Homo sapiens: one gene and its partners. The protein of the gene in region 3 purifies or fractionates together with the protein of the main gene of each other region. This does not show direct contact. Each region holds a gene or a part of one and is shown on either strand. Other genes may lie near its edges.

Region 1 (4,268 bases), on a different chromosome or scaffold from region 3:
TGGGCAGAACACAGTCCTGGAATAGGGCAGAGGCAGGATTTTAGGTGACACTGAGGTTGCCCAAGTCTCATTCCCCTTGGGATCATCTTTGGGGGCTGGAGATTCCCAGCTCCTTTTTCCTCAGAAGAAATCTCTGTGGCTGACATTGGGAATTCCTGGGCCTTGGGAGCAGGTCAATACCTGAAGGAAATGTTCTTTTTCCCTCTCTCCCAATCCCTTCTTCCTGGGGCCTGGCCTCCTGAGTTCTTGAAGTGACCCTGAGACATGACCAGCTCACCTGCTACTGGGGAGGAGATCCCAAGCCCTTGGTCCTTGGAGGGGGTGGGCAGTATGTCTAGGGGTCAGAGGGCGGGGAGCAGACCCAGGGCTTTGAGCTGAAGGCAGTCAGTGCATCTGCTTTCTATCTTCACATCAGACTCGTTCCCCATCCTGTAGAGAGGAGGTTCCTCAACCTCCCTAATCACTGGTGCTGTCGGGCTGCCTTCATCCTGTAACCTCAACCTCCTGGGTGTCAGGTTGTGATTCCATATCCCCAGGCTGTCCCAGGAGCGAAGGGTGGGTGCTGAAGGCAGCTGGTGGTCTTGGGACTCCTCCGTGGGATGGCCTCCAGCCACTGCAGAGAAACAGCTTGAGCAGACCACACTTAGAGGGACACCTGGGGACCTCAGCCTGGCCACCTTCTTGCCTCCAGAGACAGGTAGCCTCTGCACTGTAGACATTTAGATGGCCCAGCAGAGGTGGCCTTGCAGACCAGAGACCCAGAGTGGCCTTGAGTCTGCACAGTGTCCTTCACGCCTTCACCCCTTTACCCCTGGGGTCTTCTGTTCTTCTCTGTGCTGCTTTGATCAGGTTTACTCCTTCAGTGGCTCTCCATGCCTGGAGAACAGGTGCTTATTGCCCAGCCCAGCACTGCAGCGTGGCCTGCACAAGCCCTGCCTGGCTGCTGTCTGCCTTACCTTCCTGGTTGCACCTTGCTGTGCTTCTGCACAGGGATCCTCTGCTCTCATAGCCCTTGGGTGCCTCAGTTCATGCCATTCCTGCCCTGGAGGCTCCTCCTCTAGCTTCTGCCAAAATCATGGCATGCTGGAAGGAACTTAGATAGGACTTCCATAATTTTTTTTTTTTTTTTTTTTGAGATGGAGTTTCGCTCTTGTTGCCCAGGCTGGAGTGCAATGGCACGATCTCTGCTCACCACAACCTCCTCCTCCTGGGTTCAAGCGATTCTCCTGCATCAGCCTCCCGAGTAGCTGGGATTACAGGCATGTGCCACCACACCCAGCTAATTTTTTGTGTGTGTGTGTTTTTAGTAGAGATGGGATTTCTCCATGTTGGTCAGGCTGGTCTCGAACTCCCGACCTCAGGCGATCTGCCCACCTCGGCCTCCCAAAGTGCTGGGATTACAGGCGTGAGCCACCGTGCCCAGCAGGACTTCCAGAATTAATGTTAATGTTTGAGTGATTCATGTGGATCTTGTTAAAATGCAGATTTGGTTCAGTAAACATGCGGTGGGCCTGAGGTTCCGCCTTTCTAACAAGCTCCCAGGTGATGTCCACACCGCTGGTCCACAGATCACATTTTAAGTAGCCAGCCAGCCCTTAGAAATCATTTAGTTCAGTGATTCTCAATCTTGGATGACCATTACAATCATCTGGGGAGTTTTTTGTTTTTTTTTTTTAAAGGTTCACAAGCAGATTGCACTCTCCAATAATTAGCATTATTTTCCAACTTCCCTAAGTGTTCTAATGTGTGCATCTGGGATTGAGAACATCTTCCTTGGAGCCCCCTTCCCCCAAGGATCAGCTCAGGTCCCACGGTTTCTGGAAGCCTGCCTGCTTTGCTTGGCGAGTTTGCCCTTGGATCCCAGTCACTGCCTGAGCAGCATCTTCAGCATTTGTCCTGTGCTGTCTGCTCTGAGGGTCATTGCCGCATGTGTGGTTTTTTCCTCTCTCACTGACCAGTGTCCAGCTCCCCGAGGGCTCGGGTCTTGGATTTGGCCATCTGCAGAGGCCAGACTTTGACACACATTGGAGCTCAGTAAATACTTTGATGGTTGCGTATTTGTTGATTACCCTCTCTTCTTTCTGCCTTCTCCTTTCCCATGTGTTCTTCTCTGTCTCCTGTCCCCTCACCCTTTCTCCTGTTTCCCTCCTCTTCCTCTTCTTATCCTTTCCTCCTTATTGTGTGGCTGGCCCCCTTCTGCCTGTAGGATGACAACTGGGGGGAAACGACGACAGTAGTAACGGGCACCTCAGAGCACAGCATCTCCCATGATGACCTCACACGCATCGCCAAGGACATGGAGGACAGTGTCCCTCTGGACTGCTCCCGTCACCTGGGTGTGGCAGCGGGGGCCACCCTGGCACTGCTGTCTTTCCTCACGCCTCTGGCCTTCCTGCTGCTGCCCCCACTGCTGTGGCGGGAGGAGCTGGAGCCTTGCGGGACGGCCTGCGAGGGCCTCTTCATCTCTGTCGCCTTCAAGCTGCTCATCCTGCTACTGGGCAGCTGGGCTCTGTTCTTCCGCCGGCCCAAGGCCTCGCTGCCCCGCGTCTTTGTGCTGCGTGCCCTGCTTATGGTGCTGGTTTTCCTGCTCGTGGTCTCCTACTGGCTCTTCTATGGTGTGCGCATCCTGGATGCTCGGGAGCGCAGCTACCAGGGCGTGGTGCAGTTCGCCGTGTCGCTGGTGGACGCCCTTCTTTTCGTGCACTACCTGGCCGTGGTCCTGCTGGAGCTGCGCCAGCTCCAGCCTCAGTTCACGCTCAAGGTCGTGCGCTCCACCGACGGCGCCAGCCGCTTCTACAACGTTGGCCATCTCAGGTACTAGCCCACGGCTGGAGAAGGGTTGGGAGGGAAAGGGCATGGGAGGATGTGGAGTGACTGCTAGGGTGGGAGGGTATGATGGTGGGCTGGAGGTGATGGGCTTGGAGGGTTGTGTGGGAGGGAGTTGAGTACTTTGCACCAAGTAGGTTTTCACCAATGTTTGCTGCTTGATAGGCAGGTTCATGTACACGGTCTTGGGGCAAGATCAGTTGGGAGTTATGAGATGGGAATGAATAGGCATTTAGAGGTAGGGAATATTAGAGGGGGATGGACCAAAGGGAAGAAATATGGGGGGGTGCACAAACAGGGGCTTTTTGGAATCCCTTTTCTAGTCCTTTCTGGGAGGCGCAGCTTCTTGTGAGCACTCAGAGTGGCCTGTGAAGTGACCTGGCCAGAGGAGGGATCCCCAGAGAAAGAGATAAGGAGGAGAGTTCTTCAGCTCCCAGTAAACAAGCTACCCCTCGAGGCCACACAGAATATCAGTGGCACGTCCTGGGTCCTGTAGAGGATCTTGGGGGAACGCTGAATGGGGATGAGGTGATCTTTGGCTGGGGACCCAGGCCCAATGCCCTTTCTCTGCTAGGCTTTGGCATGGTGGGGAGGGACTGGCAGGCCCAGCCCTGGGAAAGGCTTGGGAGCCTGGTAAGTAGACCTCAGGCCCGGAGTCAGGCTTCTCGGAAGCAGCTTGTCCCTGTCCTGTGTCCTCTCCTGCCCTGCCAACCTGCCCTAATGTGTCCCTTTCCCCTGTGCCCCTTGGTCTGTCCCTTCTCCCACCCCCTCCTGCCGTCTCCCCCACAGCATCCAGCGCGTGGCAGTGTGGATCCTGGAGAAGTATTACCATGACTTCCCTGTCTACAACCCTGCCCTCCTCAACCTGCCCAAGTCCGTCCTGGCCAAGAAAGTGTCTGGCTTCAAGGTGTATTCCCTCGGAGAGGGTGAGCAGCCCTGCTCCTCTGCCCTTCCCTGTCTCTTCCCAAGCAGGACTCCAAGTTCCCGCCTCTCTTTTACCCTTTGTCCCTTGCTTTTTCCTTTCCTTAGCCCATGTTCTAGCCGCTTCTATTCAGTCATTTCCCTTGACTCCAGGTGGCTGATCTTAGCTGCTCATCCTACTTGCTGTCCCTTTATGCTATGGCATGTCCCCTGATCTGGCTCCTCTGTGTCTCTCATCAGCCCTGGTCTAAGCCCTTTGGCTCTCGGAGCTGCAGAACCCCCTGCACTGGGGAGGAACAACTGCAGGACTCTTGCGCTTCCAGTGCCTTCCTTGTTGCTTTCCTATGGCCTCTCCCAGAGGTGGCCAGGAGGGTTGGGATTAGGAGGTATTGCTGGGTGGTGGGAACAGCTTCTTCTGGACATGTCAGGCTGCTGTCTCCAGAGCTCCTGGAGTGGGAAGAGAGGCCACACTCTGATGTGACCATCTCCTCTATCCTGTTCCTGTGCAGAAAACAGCACCA
Region 2 (4,268 bases), on a different chromosome or scaffold from region 3:
AGCTGGATGTGGTGGCACATGCCTGTAGTCCCAGCCACTCGGGAGGCTAAGGCAGGAGAATTGCTTGAACCCAGGAGGTGAGGTTGCAGTGAGCTGAGATTGCGCCGCTGCACTTCAGCCTAGGTAACAGGGCAAGACTCCATCTCAAAAAATAATAATAATAATTTCCTTGGAAAAAAAATAATAAAATTAAACTAAAATTGCTGGGTGCAGTGGCTCACACCTATAATCCTGGCACTTTGAGAGGCTGAGGTGGGAAGATTGCTTGAGCTCAGGAGTTTTTTTGAGACCCAGTCTCAAAAAAAAAAGAAAAAAAGAAAGTTTTCTTGGCTGGGCACAGTGGCTCAAGCCTGTAATTCCAGCACTTTGGGAGGCTGAGGTGGACGAATCATTTGAGCCCAGGATTTCTAGACGAGCCTGGGCAACATAGTGAAACCTCATCTTTAGAAACAAAAAAAATTAGCCGGGCGTGGTGGCGCATGCCTGTAATCCCATCTACTGGGGAGGCTGAGGCAAGAGAATTGCTTGAACCTGGGAGGCAGAGGTTGCAGTAAGCCAAGATTGCACTGTTGCACTCCAGCGTGGGTGACACAGCAAAACTCTTTCAAGAAAAAAAAAAAAAGAAAGAGTTTTCTGGTCTGGCTCAGTGGCTCATGTTTATAATCCTAGCAGTTTAGGAGGGTGAGGCATGTGGATCACTTGAGTCCAGGAGTTTGAAACCAGCCTGGGCAACATGACAAAGCTCCATCTCTACAAAAAATACAAAAATCGCCGGGCGCGGTGGCTCACGCCTGTAATCCCAGCACTTTGGGAGGCCGAGGCGGGCGGATCACGAGGTCAGGAGATCGAGACCATCCTGGCTAACACGGTGAAACCCTGTCTCCACTAAAAATACAAAAAATTAACCGGGCGTGGTGGCGGGCGCCTGTAGTCCCAGCTACTCGGGAGGCTGAGGCAGGAGAATGGCGGGAACCCCGGGGGGCGGAGCCTACAGTGAGCCGAGATCGCACCACTGCACTCCAGCCTGGGCCACAGCGAGACTCTGTCTCAAAAAAAAATAAAAAAATAAAAAAATTAGCCAGGTATGATGGTACGTACCTGTAGTCCCAGCTACTTGGGAGGCTGAGGTGGGAGGATTGCTTGAGCCCAGGGAGGTTGAGGGTACAATGAGCCATGATCGCGCCACTGCACTCCAGCCTGGGCAACAGAGAGCCCGTCTCAAAAAAAAAAAATTAGGCTGGGCACGGCAGCTCATGCCTGTAATCTCAGCACTTTGGGAGGCCGAGGTGGGTGGATCACCTGAGGTCGGGAGTTCGAGAGCAGCCTGACAAAAATGGAGAAACCCCGTCTCTACTAAAAAATACAAAATTAGCCGGGCCTGGTGGTGCATGCCTATAATCCCAGCTACTCAGGAGGCTAAAGCAGGAGAATTGCTTGAACCCGGGAGGTGGAGGTTGCAGTGAGCCAAGATGGCACCATTGGAATCCAGCCTGGGCAACAAGAGCAAAACTCTGTCTCAAAAAAAAAAAAAATTTGCAAAAATTAGCTGGGTGTGGTGGCGGGCGCCTGTAGTCCCAGCTACTCGGGAGGCTGAGGTGGGAGAATGGCATGAACCTGGGAGGCGGAGCTTGCAGTGAGCTGAGATTGTGCCACTGCACTCCAGCCTGGGTGACAGAGTGAGACTCCAAACAGAGTGAGACTCCGAGCAGAGTGAGACTCTGAGCTCTGTCACCCAGGCTGGAGTGCAGTGGCGCGATCTCGGCTCACTGCAAGCTCCTCTTCCCGGATTCATGCCATTCTCCTGTCTCAGCCTCCCGAGTAGCTGGGACTACAGGTGCCCGCCACCACACCTGGCTAATTTTTTGTTTTTGTATTTTTAGTAGAGACAAGGTTTCACCGTGTTAGCCAGGATGGTCTCGATCGCCTGACCTTGTGATCTGCCGGCCTAGGCCTCCCAAAGTGCTGGGACAGGTGTGAGCCACCGCGCCCGGCCAAAAAAGTTAATTTTCTTATCTTGCACTGAGATCTGTCTCCTTGTAGCAGCAGCCAAATCATCATCAACAAATAATCTGAGAGCATGGGCTTTGAAGCTGTATCCCACCGAGATACAGTGAGAGCTGGAAAGGCCAGTGCCTGTCTCCACAGAGCACTGCTACAGGGCCGACTGACCCCATTCCATTGTGAGCAGAGCTGAGAAGAGGAAATGCAGGCTCTGGATGGAGCCCTCTCACCTGGCCTTGGGGAATCGAGGAATATTTTCTTTTCTTTTTTTTTTGAGATGGAGTCTCGCACTGTCGCCCAGACTGGAGTGCAGTGGTGCGATATCAGCTCACTGCAACCTCCGCCTCCTGGGTTCAAGCAATTCTCCTGCCTCAGCTTCCCGAGTAGCTGGGATTACAGGCCTGCACCACCATGCCTGGCTAATTTTTGTATTATTAGTAGAGACAGAGTTTTGCCATGTTGGCCAGGCTGGTCTCAAACTCCTGACCTCAGGTGATCCATCTGCCTTGGCCTCCCAAAGTGCTGGGATTACAGGCGTGAGCCAACCATGCCCGGCCCAAGGAATGTTTTCTAGAGGAGGTGGTGTCTTGGCCTTGAAGGACTTACACGGGAGTACTTATGGCCAAGTAGACAAGTTGAGGAACGCAGAAGAAACAGCTTGTTAAAAGGCCTAGAAGTCAACTACTCAAGGCCACCCCATATCCTGTCCCCTGGCTAAACACCCCAGATACTTGAGTTGTCCTTTTTTTTTTTTGAGATGGAGTTTTGCTCTTATTGCCCAGGCTGGAGTGCAGTGACACGATCTTATTGCCCAGACTGGAGTGCAGTGGCGCAATCTTGGCTCACTGCAACCTCCGCCTCCCGGGTTCAAGCAATTCTCCTGCCTCAGCCTCTTGAATAGCTGGGATTACAGGCATGTACCACCACACCTGGCGAATTTTTATATTTTCAGTAGAGATGGGATTTCTCCATGTTGGTCAGGCTGGTCTCGAACTTCCGACCTCAGGTGATTTGCCCGCCTTGGCCTCCCAAAGTGCTGGGATTACAGGCGTGAGCCACCTCGCCCCACCTCTTTTTTTTTTTTTTTTGGAGACAGAGTCTTGCTCTGTCGCCCAGGCCGGATTGCAGTGGTGTGATTTCGGCTCACTGCAAGCTCTGCCTCCCGGGTTCACGCCATTCTTCTGCCTCAGCCTCTCGAGTAGCTGGGACTAACTACAGGCGCCCGCCACTGCGCCCGGCTAATTTTTTGTATTTTTAGTAGAGACGAGGTTTCACCATGGTCTTGATCTCCTGACCTCGTGATCTGCCCACCTCGGCCTCCCAAAGTGCTGGGATTACAGGTGTGAGCCACCACGCCCGGCCTTTTTTTTGGGGGGGGTGGGGGACAGAGTCTTGCTTTGTCGCCCAGGCTGGAGTGCAGTGGCATAATCTTGACTCACTGCAACCTCCGCCTCCCAGGTTCAAGCGATTCTCCTGCCTCAGCCTCCCAAGTAGTTGGGATTACAGGCGCCCACCGCCATGCCCGGCTAATATTTGTATTTTTAGTAGAGACAGAGTTTCACCATGTTGGCCAGGCTGGTCTCGAACTCCCGACCTCAGGTGATCCACCTGCCTCAGCCTACCAAAGTGCTGGGATTACAGGTGTGAGCCACCACGCCCGGCCTCAAGTTTTTGTTTTGTTTGTTTTTTTTTGAGCTGGAGTCTTGCTCTGTCGCCCAGGCTGGAGTGCAATGGCACAATATTGGCTCACTGCAACCTCTGCCTCCCGGGTTCAAGTGATTCTCCTGCCTCAGCCTTCCGAGTAGCTGGGATTACAGGTGCCCACCATCATGCCCGGCTGGTTTTTGTATTTTTAGTTGGGATGGGGTTTCGCCATGTTGGTCAGGCTGGGCTTGAACTCCTGACCTCAGGTGATCTGCCTGCCTTGGTCTCCCAAAGTGTTGGGATTACAGGCATGAGCCACTGCGCCCGGCCGAGCTGTTCTTTCTAAGCTTCTCTTTCTACCCTGGACCCCTGCCTTTGTTTACAAGTTCTCTCTGTGTGTAACCCCCAGGCCCAGACTCTCCCTAAATGATACTCTTGGGCCTGCTTCGTGTCCTCAAAAGCTGCTAGATCCCCACTGCTTTCTCTACCCTTTGAGGGACAACCCTCTAGTGACGTGACACATGAACTTACTCCGTTGACAAAACACGTTTCATATCCATTGGGAGAGGTGGGGCAGAGCTGGGACTCACCTCCACTGTTCAGATGGGGAAACTGAGGCCCAG
Region 3 (5,036 bases):
TGGTCTAGTTAAGGAGTGAGGACATTATAATAGGTAACATTTATTGAGTGCTTACTGTAAAGTAGTGTGCTAAGTGCTTTTGAGTAGATTGTCTTTTTTTTTTTTTTTTTTTTTTTTTTTTGAGACAGAGTCTCACTCTGTCACCCAGGCTGGAGTACAGTGGCATGATCTCGGCTCACTGCAACCTCTGCCTCCCAGGTTCAAGTGATTCTCCTGCCTCAGTCTCCCAAGTAGCTGGGACTACCGGCACCCGCCACCATGCCCAGCTAATTTTTGTATTTTTAGTAGAGACAGGGTTTCGCCGTGCTGGCCAGGCTGATCCAGAACTCCTGACCTCAGGTGATCTGCCCACTTTGGCCTCCCAAAGTGCTGGGATTACAGGCATGAGCCACCGCGCCCCGCCTGTAGATTGTCTTTTTTAATGGTCACAATAATCTTATGAGATCATTATCGTTTTTACTCCCATTTCACTGATGAGAAAACTGAGTCAGAGACATGAAGTTATTTGCCCTAAGATCACAGAACTAAGCTTTGAATCCAAGCAACTTGACTCCAAAGACCCTGATTTTTACAGCTTTCTTACATATAAAAAGATACTGGGTAGCATTAGCTGAGGTTCAAATAATGGCTATGGATAAGGGTTGTCAGAGAAAGGTGAGGTCCCCTGAGGATGAAAGTATAAAGGAAGGGACATTTCTAGAAGGGGAAAAAGCAGTAAAGGCCTAGGTTACCATAGTGTGACAGGAGCACTAAGAAACAGATGACTTTGACTGCAGGGGAGGGTTTGTAGCCCTGGAGATTGGAAATTCTAGAAGTCTTGCATATTTCTCCTCCCTTGGTCCCAGTCTTAGAAGGTTGGCCAGGCGCGGTGGCTCACACCTGTAATCCCAGCACTTTGGGAGGCCAAGGTGGGCGGATCATGAGGTCAGGAGTTCAAGACCAGCCTGGCCAACATAGTGAAACCCTGTCTCTACTAAGAATATAAAAAAAATTATCTGGGCATGGTGGCGCGTGTCTGTAGTCCCCGTACTCAGGAGGCTGAGGCAGGAGAATCACTTGAACCCGGGAGGTGAAGGTTGCAGTGAGCTGAGATTGTGCTACTGCACTCCAGCTTGGGCAACAGAGTGAGACTTCATCTCAAAAAAAAAAAAACAAAACTGGGAGTTCATAGGCCTGTGTGTGGGAGGATATTCCATAAACTGATCCATCCTGCACTCTTTTTGCATTGCAGTGTTTCACCTGTCTCGGAAAGTAACATCTCTGGTCCCTGAGAGCTGCCTGCTGATTTTGCTGGGCCTGGTGCTAGGGGGAATTGTTTTGGCTGTGGCCAAGAAAGCTGAGTACCAGCTGGAGCCAGGCACCTTCTTCCTCTTCCTGCTGCCTCCTATTGTGTTGGACTCAGGCTATTTCATGCCTAGCAGGCTGTTCTTTGACAACTTGGGTGCCATCCTCACCTATGCCGTGGTAGGCACACTCTGGAATGCCTTCACAACAGGCGCTGCCCTCTGGGGCTTGCAGCAGGCTGGACTTGTAGGTGAGTGACCCTAAGACCTGGGCTTTGCCAGACCCATCACCCCTCTCCCTTCTCCTCAAGCTCTGGAGGCCCATGCTGGTGTGAGCCATGCCCTGAAAGCTCCATCCTAGGTCCCTCCCTCTGGAGTGCAAGGCAGTGCTCCCGCTGGGGTTCAGGCCTCATTGAGGTCTCTGCCAGTCTGGGCTTCTGCAGCATAACAGCTGAGCAGGAGTCTGGCTCCCAGCTGTATGTGGGCTGCCAAGGCTGGGGAGCCTGTGTTACCATTCTGTTGCCTCCTGCCCTCTGTTACCACATTGCCATTTGCCAGCCCGTCTCCCCTGAGGCATAGCTGTGCATCATTTCTGCAAGGGCCTGCTGTCCTGGCTCTCCCCAGGCCAGGTCTGGGTGGTTTTCTGTTTTTATTATTATTTTTTTTTCTTAACTATATGTTGTCTATAAGAAATTCATTATTTTAAACATTTATTTTTTTAAATAAATAAATAGATATTTAAAAAATAAATATTATAAATCCATCAAATGCTGGCACTACACTGGGTTTTCTCTCCTTACTTATCCCACTGACTCTTCATAGCAACCCTTTTGTGTAGTTTGTCACATTTACACATGAGGAAATAGAACCCCTTGCATTTGTTTGCTATCAGGTCCAAGGTTAGCAGAAGAGGTCCGTGTTTGTTGTTGTTGTTGTTGCTTGTTTTTTTGAGATGGAGTCTCACTCTTGTCCAGGCTAGAGTGCAATGGCATGATCTTGGCTTACTGCAACCTCCACCTCCTGGGTTCAAGCAATTCTCCTGTCTTAGCCTCCTGAGTAGCTGGGATTACAAGCACATGTCACTATGCCCAGCTAATTTTTGTATTTTTAGTAGAGATGGGGTTTCGCCATGTTGGCCAGGCTGGTCTTGAACTGCTGAGCTCAGGTGATCTGCCCACCTCAACCTGTCAAAGTGCTAGGATTATAGGCATGAGCCACCACGCCTGGCCCCAGGTCTGTTTTACTGAGGCTCTTTGCCTTTAGGTTGCCCTCTCTTGCTACCTTCTTTATTTCCTAACCCAAGAAATTCATTCAACCCTGAAGGTTAATGATTCACACTTTTTCCAAGGTATTACAAGAAAACGTTTACAATTGCTACCTGGGACTCTAACCTGGTTTCCCTATTGAGGTAGTGAACTATTTGGGGCAGGAAGGGAAGGGAGGACATCAGATCATAATAACAGTAATAGATAATAATATCTTTTGGGTGCTTACTATATGTTAGGCATTGGCTAAGGAACTTTTTGAGGTAGATATTGTTATTAGTCTCAATTTAGACATGGGGAAACTGGGGCTCATAGAAATTATATGACATATTCAAGTCCGATCTGTGTTGCTTTTCTTACTATATTCAGTTCTCCACACCTGCTGAGAATTGTGTCACATCCCTTTGGCCGGGAACCACAGGTGTGGGAGAAAGCACTCTCTTTTGTTATTCCCCCTAATAAAAATAGTTAGCAGCCAATTTCCATTTGCTGGTAGTTATTATTACTGTTGCTACAGTGCTTTTTCCCTATTTTATTTTATTTATTATTATTTTTTGAGACTGAGTCTCACTGTGTCACCCAGGCTGGAGTGCAGTGGCACAATCTCGGCTCACTGCGGCCTCCGCCTCCCTGGTTCAAGTGATTCTCCTGCCTCAGCCTCCCAAGTAGCTGGGATTACAGGCCTGCACCACTGCGCCTGGCTACTTTTTGTATTTTTAGTAGAGACAGGGTTTCACCATGTTGGCCAGGCTGGTCTTGAACTCCTGACCTCAGGTGATCCAGCCCACCTCGGCCTCCCAAAGTGCTGGGATTACAGGCATGAGTCACTGTACCTGGGCTTTTTCCCTATTCCAAATGGCTGGGTTGAGTTTTGAAACAATCTTGTGAGGCAGGCAGATGAGGAGGCATGGCTAAGGTGAGCCACATGACAGTGACGGACCAGCATCACACAGTTGGTAAGTGGCAAAGCCAGACCTTAGGCATAGGTAGCTTGACTGAAGTCTCCTGATCTGCAGGCTAATGCTGTCTTTGCCATCCCAAGTCCTCTTTGGGCTTCCTTGCTGTTATCAGCAGGGGTGGGGCCTGGGCTTGTTCCAGGGCGTGCTCCAGGAGACTGGGTCGTCTTCAATGACTGGCCTGTCCTACACATGTCCCTTAATAGCCCCTAGGGTGCAGGCTGGCTTACTGGACTTCCTGCTGTTTGGGAGCCTCATCTCGGCGGTGGACCCCGTGGCCGTGCTAGCTGTCTTTGAGGAGGTGCACGTCAATGAGACTCTCTTTATCATCGTCTTTGGCGAGTCCCTGCTCAACGATGCTGTCACCGTGGTGAGCGTGCTCAGCTGACTGCCATTCCCTGACCCCAGGCTGCATGCTCTGACCAACTAGGGGTCTGCGCAGACTCAGTCCCTTCCCTTGGGTCCCCTGGGGCAGAAATATGCTGTCTGCTTTCACCCTGCTCTCCCAGCAGTCTGTCTCCCAGCAGTCCCAGTTGCTGCCTTCCCGCCTCACTGCTGACTCTCCTCTTCTCGCTCAGGTGCTGTACAAGGTCTGCAACTCCTTTGTGGAGATGGGCTCTGCCAATGTGCAGGCCACTGACTACCTGAAGGGAGTCGGTCAGTATTTCCCCGCTCCCAGCTGGCATTGGAGGTCTGCCTCCCCTGGGTTGCTGAGGCCCTCCCACCCCGCATCAGGACAGAAGAGGCTATTCGGGTTGCCTCATCTCCTCTATAGAGAAATGGGGTCTGGGAGGGGCTTGCCAGGGATCCTGGCTCTGGGGTTTTGAGCCCCTGGGAGTGCGGTGGGCATCATCCCTCACTCCCTGCCAGGCAGCAGTCTTGTCAGCCCGGGTAGGGTCCGGGCCAGGGGTCATGCTGACAACCCACTCCTCCCCCAGCCTCCCTGTTTGTGGTCAGTCTGGGCGGGGCAGCCGTGGGCTTAGTCTTTGCCTTCCTCCTGGCCCTGACCACACGCTTCACCAAGCGGGTCCGCATCATCGAGCCGCTGCTGGTCTTCCTCCTCGCCTACGCAGCCTACCTCACTGCTGAAATGGCCTCGCTCTCCGCCATTCTTGCGTGAGTTCTGGGGGCCTTGCAGGCAGATAGCTGGGAGGGGGCACTGGAGATGGTTGCCCCTCATAGGGACACAGGCAGGAACTTCAGGAGTCCATAGGTTTCCCTGAGCCCTTGTGGTAGTGGGAGCCTCAGACTGTCCTGGGGAGTCAGTAAACCTCAGCAATATTTCAGGAGCTGCCCCCAGAGCTGTCCTCAGCACCCTGAAACCCTCTGGGTGTAGGCTGGGCTGGAAGTAGACTTTAAGGCCTGGGGCCACCAGCTCTGGAGGCCGCAGCACTCCAGAAGGTGCATTAGAGAGCCCGCTAGTCAGAGCACGTTCCTTCCACCTTCCCTTCCAGGAGACACTGAATGGGAAGCCTGGAGATCTGGACTCTTAGCCCAGCACTACCATTCAAGTCTTCAGGCCTCCCTGGGCT
Region 4 (4,238 bases), on a different chromosome or scaffold from region 3:
TTCAGGTTTGGTTGTTTTGACAGAGGTGCTTTAGGGGGTCATTTCTAATGTGGGTTGAAAACATACATGGGGATCCCGGATCCCACATGGTAAATTGATTTTGTTTTGTTTTTGAGACCAAGTCTTCCTCTGTCGCCCAGGCTGGAGTGCAGTGGTGTGGGATTTCAGCTCACTGCACCTCTGTCTCCAAGGTTCAAGTGATTCTCATGCCTCAGCCTCCCAAGTAGCTGGGACTACAGGCACCCACCACCACACCCGGCTAACTTTTTTGTATTTTTGGTAGAGACGGGGTTTCACCATGTTGGTCAGGCTGGTCTCAAACTCCTGACCTCAGGTGATCTACCTGCCTTGGCCTCCCAAAGTTCTGGGATTACAGGTGTAAGACACTGCACCTGGCCCTTGATTGATTTTTAAAGTTTTATTATTTGGCTTCAATCTCATTTATATATGAGGAAAACGAAGCTCAGAAGAGTTTCAATGATTTAATGGAAGACTTAAAATATTAGAAAAAAGTTTTATTCTTAAGAGAATTTAAAAGAAGACATTAATAGAAAATGAAAAGAAATTGTGAACCCTTTCAAAACCTTTCAATTCAATGTTCTAGTTCTTCATTTCCTTGATACAACTCTGTACCATGGTCATAATTTTTCCGTCTCATGAATAGGAGGAAAAATGACAGGAATGGAGACTACCCTGAGGAATACTTTTGAGATCAGTGGATAGGTGTTCAATGAATAAGTCAGGTATACCTAAAGAAACACTAAATGTACATGTACATCAGTCAGTATCTCATAGCATAAACAGTTAGTCAAGATAGCTTTCTCTTTCCTAACCGTTTTGCCATACTACAATGATCTAGTTAAAATACAAATTTCACAACTTCAATGATTCTTCACTGCCCACAATTAACGCACTGTTTCATAGACTATGTTCTACCAATTATACATTGCCTACATATAATAGTCACTATAAAGAAATAATGGACAGGCATGGTGGCTCATGCCTATAATCCCAGCACTTTGGGAGACTGAGGCAGGGGAATCACTTAAGGCCAGGAGTTTTGAGAGCAGTCTGGGCAACAGAGTGAGATCTTTTGGCTACACAAAAAATTAAAAAAAAAAAAAAAAAAAAAGTAGGGGGGGTGGGGCTAGGCGCAGTGGCTCATGCCTGTAATCCCAGCTCTTTGGGAGGCCAAGGGGGGTGGATCACCTGAGGTCAGGAGTTCAAGACCAGCCTGACCAACACGGTGAAACCCCATCTCTACTAAAAATACAAAAAAAAAAAATTAGCCAGGCATGGTGGCGCATGCCTGTAATCTCAGCTACTCGGGAGGCTGAGGCAGAAGAATTGCTTGAACCCAGGAAGTGGAGGTTGTGGTGAGCCAAGATCGTGCCATTGCACTCCAGCCTGGGCAACAAGAGCAAAACTCAGTCTCATAAAAAAGGCTGTGGTGAGCCAAGATTGTGCCATTGCACTCCAGCCTGGGCAACAAGAGCAAAACTCAGTCTCAAACAAACAAACAGACAATAGCAGGGTGTAGCAGCACGTGCCTGTAGTCCCAGCTATTTAAGAGGATGAGGTGGGAAGACTGAGTTGAGCCCAGGAGCTCGAGGCTGCAGTGAGCCAAGATCATGCCACTGCACTCCAGGGCAAGCCCTTGTCTTCAAAAAACAAAAAAATTCAAAAAAGTAATGCGTTGAACAAACACCAAGTACAAAGTATACTAATACAGTGGATAAATGCTACTCCAACTCTGATCCACTGACTGCCAGGATCAGCATGACACTACAGATGGAACTCAAGAATCTGTCATAACAGGCTATCCGGCTGATTGTTCTGAATGTGAAAGTTTTAGAAACACTGTTCCAAGGGTAAAAATGAGGGGACCTAATTTCTTCTCTCTTAGGAATCTTACCCCCCAAAAGGTATTGCAAGCATCTGTTGTGGGGCTGGAATTCCTAAAACCTCTCAAAGCATGCTGTGTGAATAAAAGGACAGTGTTCAGATTTCTGACTCTAACAGACCATCTAACCATGGAAGCCTACAGCCCTTTTAAAACATGTACTTTCAATGTTGTGAGCTGAGTATATATAACAACATATTGCTAGTATGTAAATGTGCTTAAAACAAAAATGAAGTTCTTATCTCTAGCAGAACTGGAGTCACACCTAAATTACAACATTCAGACAAGGCCTTCCTTTTAAGTAGACATGACAGAATTTTAAATTTATAAAACGAATTAATGTATCGCATACATTCACTTTACATATTCAAAAAACGCTAAACTTAAGAAACTGAAAAGTTGAAAAATAAGAGGTAGTAGTACCCACTGAGTGACGTTCTGGCATTCTATTAAATATTCTACATTAGAAGATTATAGGGAAAAGGGAGCTGAATTCTAAGAGAACAAATGTAGAGAAGGCAACCCTATGGTCTTGGGAAAAGACAATAATGGAAGGAAAAATATATTCAAAATGTATTGTACAAATTGTTAGACATGCATCACTTACAATAAACAGAAGGTAATTATTTGTGGTAGCATAAAGAGAGAAGGGAATAGGCCAGGCACATTGGCTCACGTCTGTAATCTCAACACTTTGGGAGGTGGAGGCGGGCAGATCACTTGAGGTCAGGAGTTCAAGACCAGCCTGGCCAACATGGTGAAACCCATCTCTACTAAAAATACAAAAATTAGCTGGGTATGGTGGCGCACACCTGCAATCCCAGCTACTCGAGAGGCTGAGGCAGGCAAATTGCTTCAAACCTGTGAGGCAGAGGTTGCAGTGAGCCGGGATCGCACCACTGCACTCCAGGCTGGGCTACAGGGTGAGATTCTGTCTCCAAAAAAAAAAAAAAGAGAGAAAGGAATAGAGTGTTTTGTTAGCTCTGGTCATTCCCACTCTTCTTCTCTCTTGTTGCTATTACTTTGAAGCATTTGGTTTGGTTATTCTATTTTGTTAAGGAATAATTAAAAAGTACATTACTAACAGTTTTGCTTTATATATTGTGTGCCTTGGGCAAAATTTGTGTGTGTGGTTATTCACAGAGGAGGAGCCAGATAGGTAGCTCAGTCCATAAACTATGGAAGGTAGCAGTATCCTTTACTGCAGTGGCTTTCAAATTTGACATGCACCAAAATCTCCTGGAGAGCTTGTTAAAACATAGAAAGCAGGGCCTCATCCCCCACGTTTTTGATTCAGTAGGTCTGGGTTGGGGCTCGAGAATTTGCATTTCTAACAAATTCCTAGGTGATGCTGATGCTGATGCTGATGCTTCTGGTTTGGAGCACATACTTTGAGAACCACTGCTCTAATGGAATCAGTAGTCACAAGGCCAAGCAGCCAGGTAGACACTAAGGGAAAACAGTACCTCCCTGTGTAGGTTTTCAGGACACAACATTAGTTACAAGTTTTATCACCTGCTCAACCAGGTATATAGCTATGTCAATTCTCAAGGGCTTTAACTGACAAAACCAGTTGTTAGAGGACAGTTCTTTCAAGGGTGAACCCAACACCTAAAAAAAGTTTTGAAAAAGTCAGTTATTTGCCTATTTAAGGACGGTTTTAGAATCCACTATTATGGGAATGGATCTGCTTAGCCTATTTGAGGTTTTTTTGTTTTTTGAGACAGAGTCTCGCCCTGTTGCCTGGGCTGGAGTGCAATGGTGCGATTTTGACTCACTGAAACCTCTGCCTCCCGGGTTCAAGTGATTCGCCTCCCTCAGCCTCCCGAGTAGCTGGGATTACAGGCGCCCGCCACCACGCCTGGCTATTTTTTTTTGTATTTTTAGTAGAGATGGGGTTTCACCATGTTGGCCAGGTTGGTCTCAAACTCTTGGCCTCGTGATTCGCCCACCTTGGCCTCCCAAAGTGCTGGGATTACAGGTGTAAGTCACTGTGCCTGGCCGCCTAGTGGAGTTTTAATGCCAATATCCTTGGACTAACTTGAAAATGAATAATATAAATTCGAAATTTCTGCCTGCAGTACAATTCAAAATAAGAGTTTCTAAATTTTTTTAATCCTTATGTTAAAATAATAAATAATCTCATTTCAGTTGTTTTTTCACCCAATTACTAAAAAACAAAATAGTCATAAAAAAGAATTCATTTAGCAAAGGTACTATTTGTAGATATTAGCCACTTATTAAAAACATATTTCTATTAAGATTGTTCTTACATTCTTAGATTTAGAACACCTGATATCTGGACCCAGCTGAGTTTTTATTTTACAGATCATAA

Evidence for each region. Proteins that work in one complex are often made in the same cells at the same time.
Region 1: the proteins of SLC9A5 (region 3) and VANGL2 purify together in Homo sapiens (affinity purification with mass spectrometry; one large-scale study listed by BioGRID and IntAct). This does not show direct contact.
Region 2: the proteins of SLC9A5 (region 3) and PKN3 purify together in Homo sapiens (affinity purification with mass spectrometry; one large-scale study listed by BioGRID and IntAct). This does not show direct contact.
Region 4: the proteins of SLC9A5 (region 3) and NUP155 purify together in Homo sapiens (affinity purification with mass spectrometry; one large-scale study listed by BioGRID and IntAct). This does not show direct contact.

Annotation. Positions count from the first base shown.
Region 1 is NC_000001.11:160,416,796-160,421,063, forward strand, and holds part of VANGL2 (vang-like protein 2), read left to right. Parts: intron 1-2,206; coding exon 2,207-2,814; intron 2,815-3,149; coding exon of another isoform or gene 3,150-3,198; exon of another isoform or gene 3,199-3,603; intron 3,604-3,615; coding exon 3,616-3,752; intron 3,753-4,256; coding exon 4,257-4,268. UniProt on the Homo sapiens protein: Involved in the control of early morphogenesis and patterning of both axial midline structures and the development of neural plate. Plays a role in the regulation of planar cell polarity, particularly in the orientation of stereociliary bundles in the cochlea.
Region 2 is NC_000009.12:128,708,235-128,712,502, forward strand, and holds part of PKN3 (serine/threonine-protein kinase N3), read left to right. Parts: intron 1-4,268.
Region 3 is NC_000016.10:67,251,311-67,256,346, forward strand, and holds part of SLC9A5 (sodium/hydrogen exchanger 5 isoform 1 precursor), read left to right. Parts: intron 1-1,231; coding exon 1,232-1,534; intron 1,535-3,710; coding exon 3,711-3,874; intron 3,875-4,082; coding exon 4,083-4,161; intron 4,162-4,442; coding exon 4,443-4,620; intron 4,621-5,036. UniProt on the Homo sapiens protein: Plasma membrane Na(+)/H(+) antiporter. Mediates the electroneutral exchange of intracellular H(+) ions for extracellular Na(+) in 1:1 stoichiometry, thus regulating intracellular pH homeostasis, in particular in neural tissues.
Region 4 is NC_000005.10:37,287,637-37,291,874, forward strand, and holds the end of NUP155 (nuclear pore complex protein Nup155), read right to left. Parts: 3' UTR 501-4,238; downstream 1-500.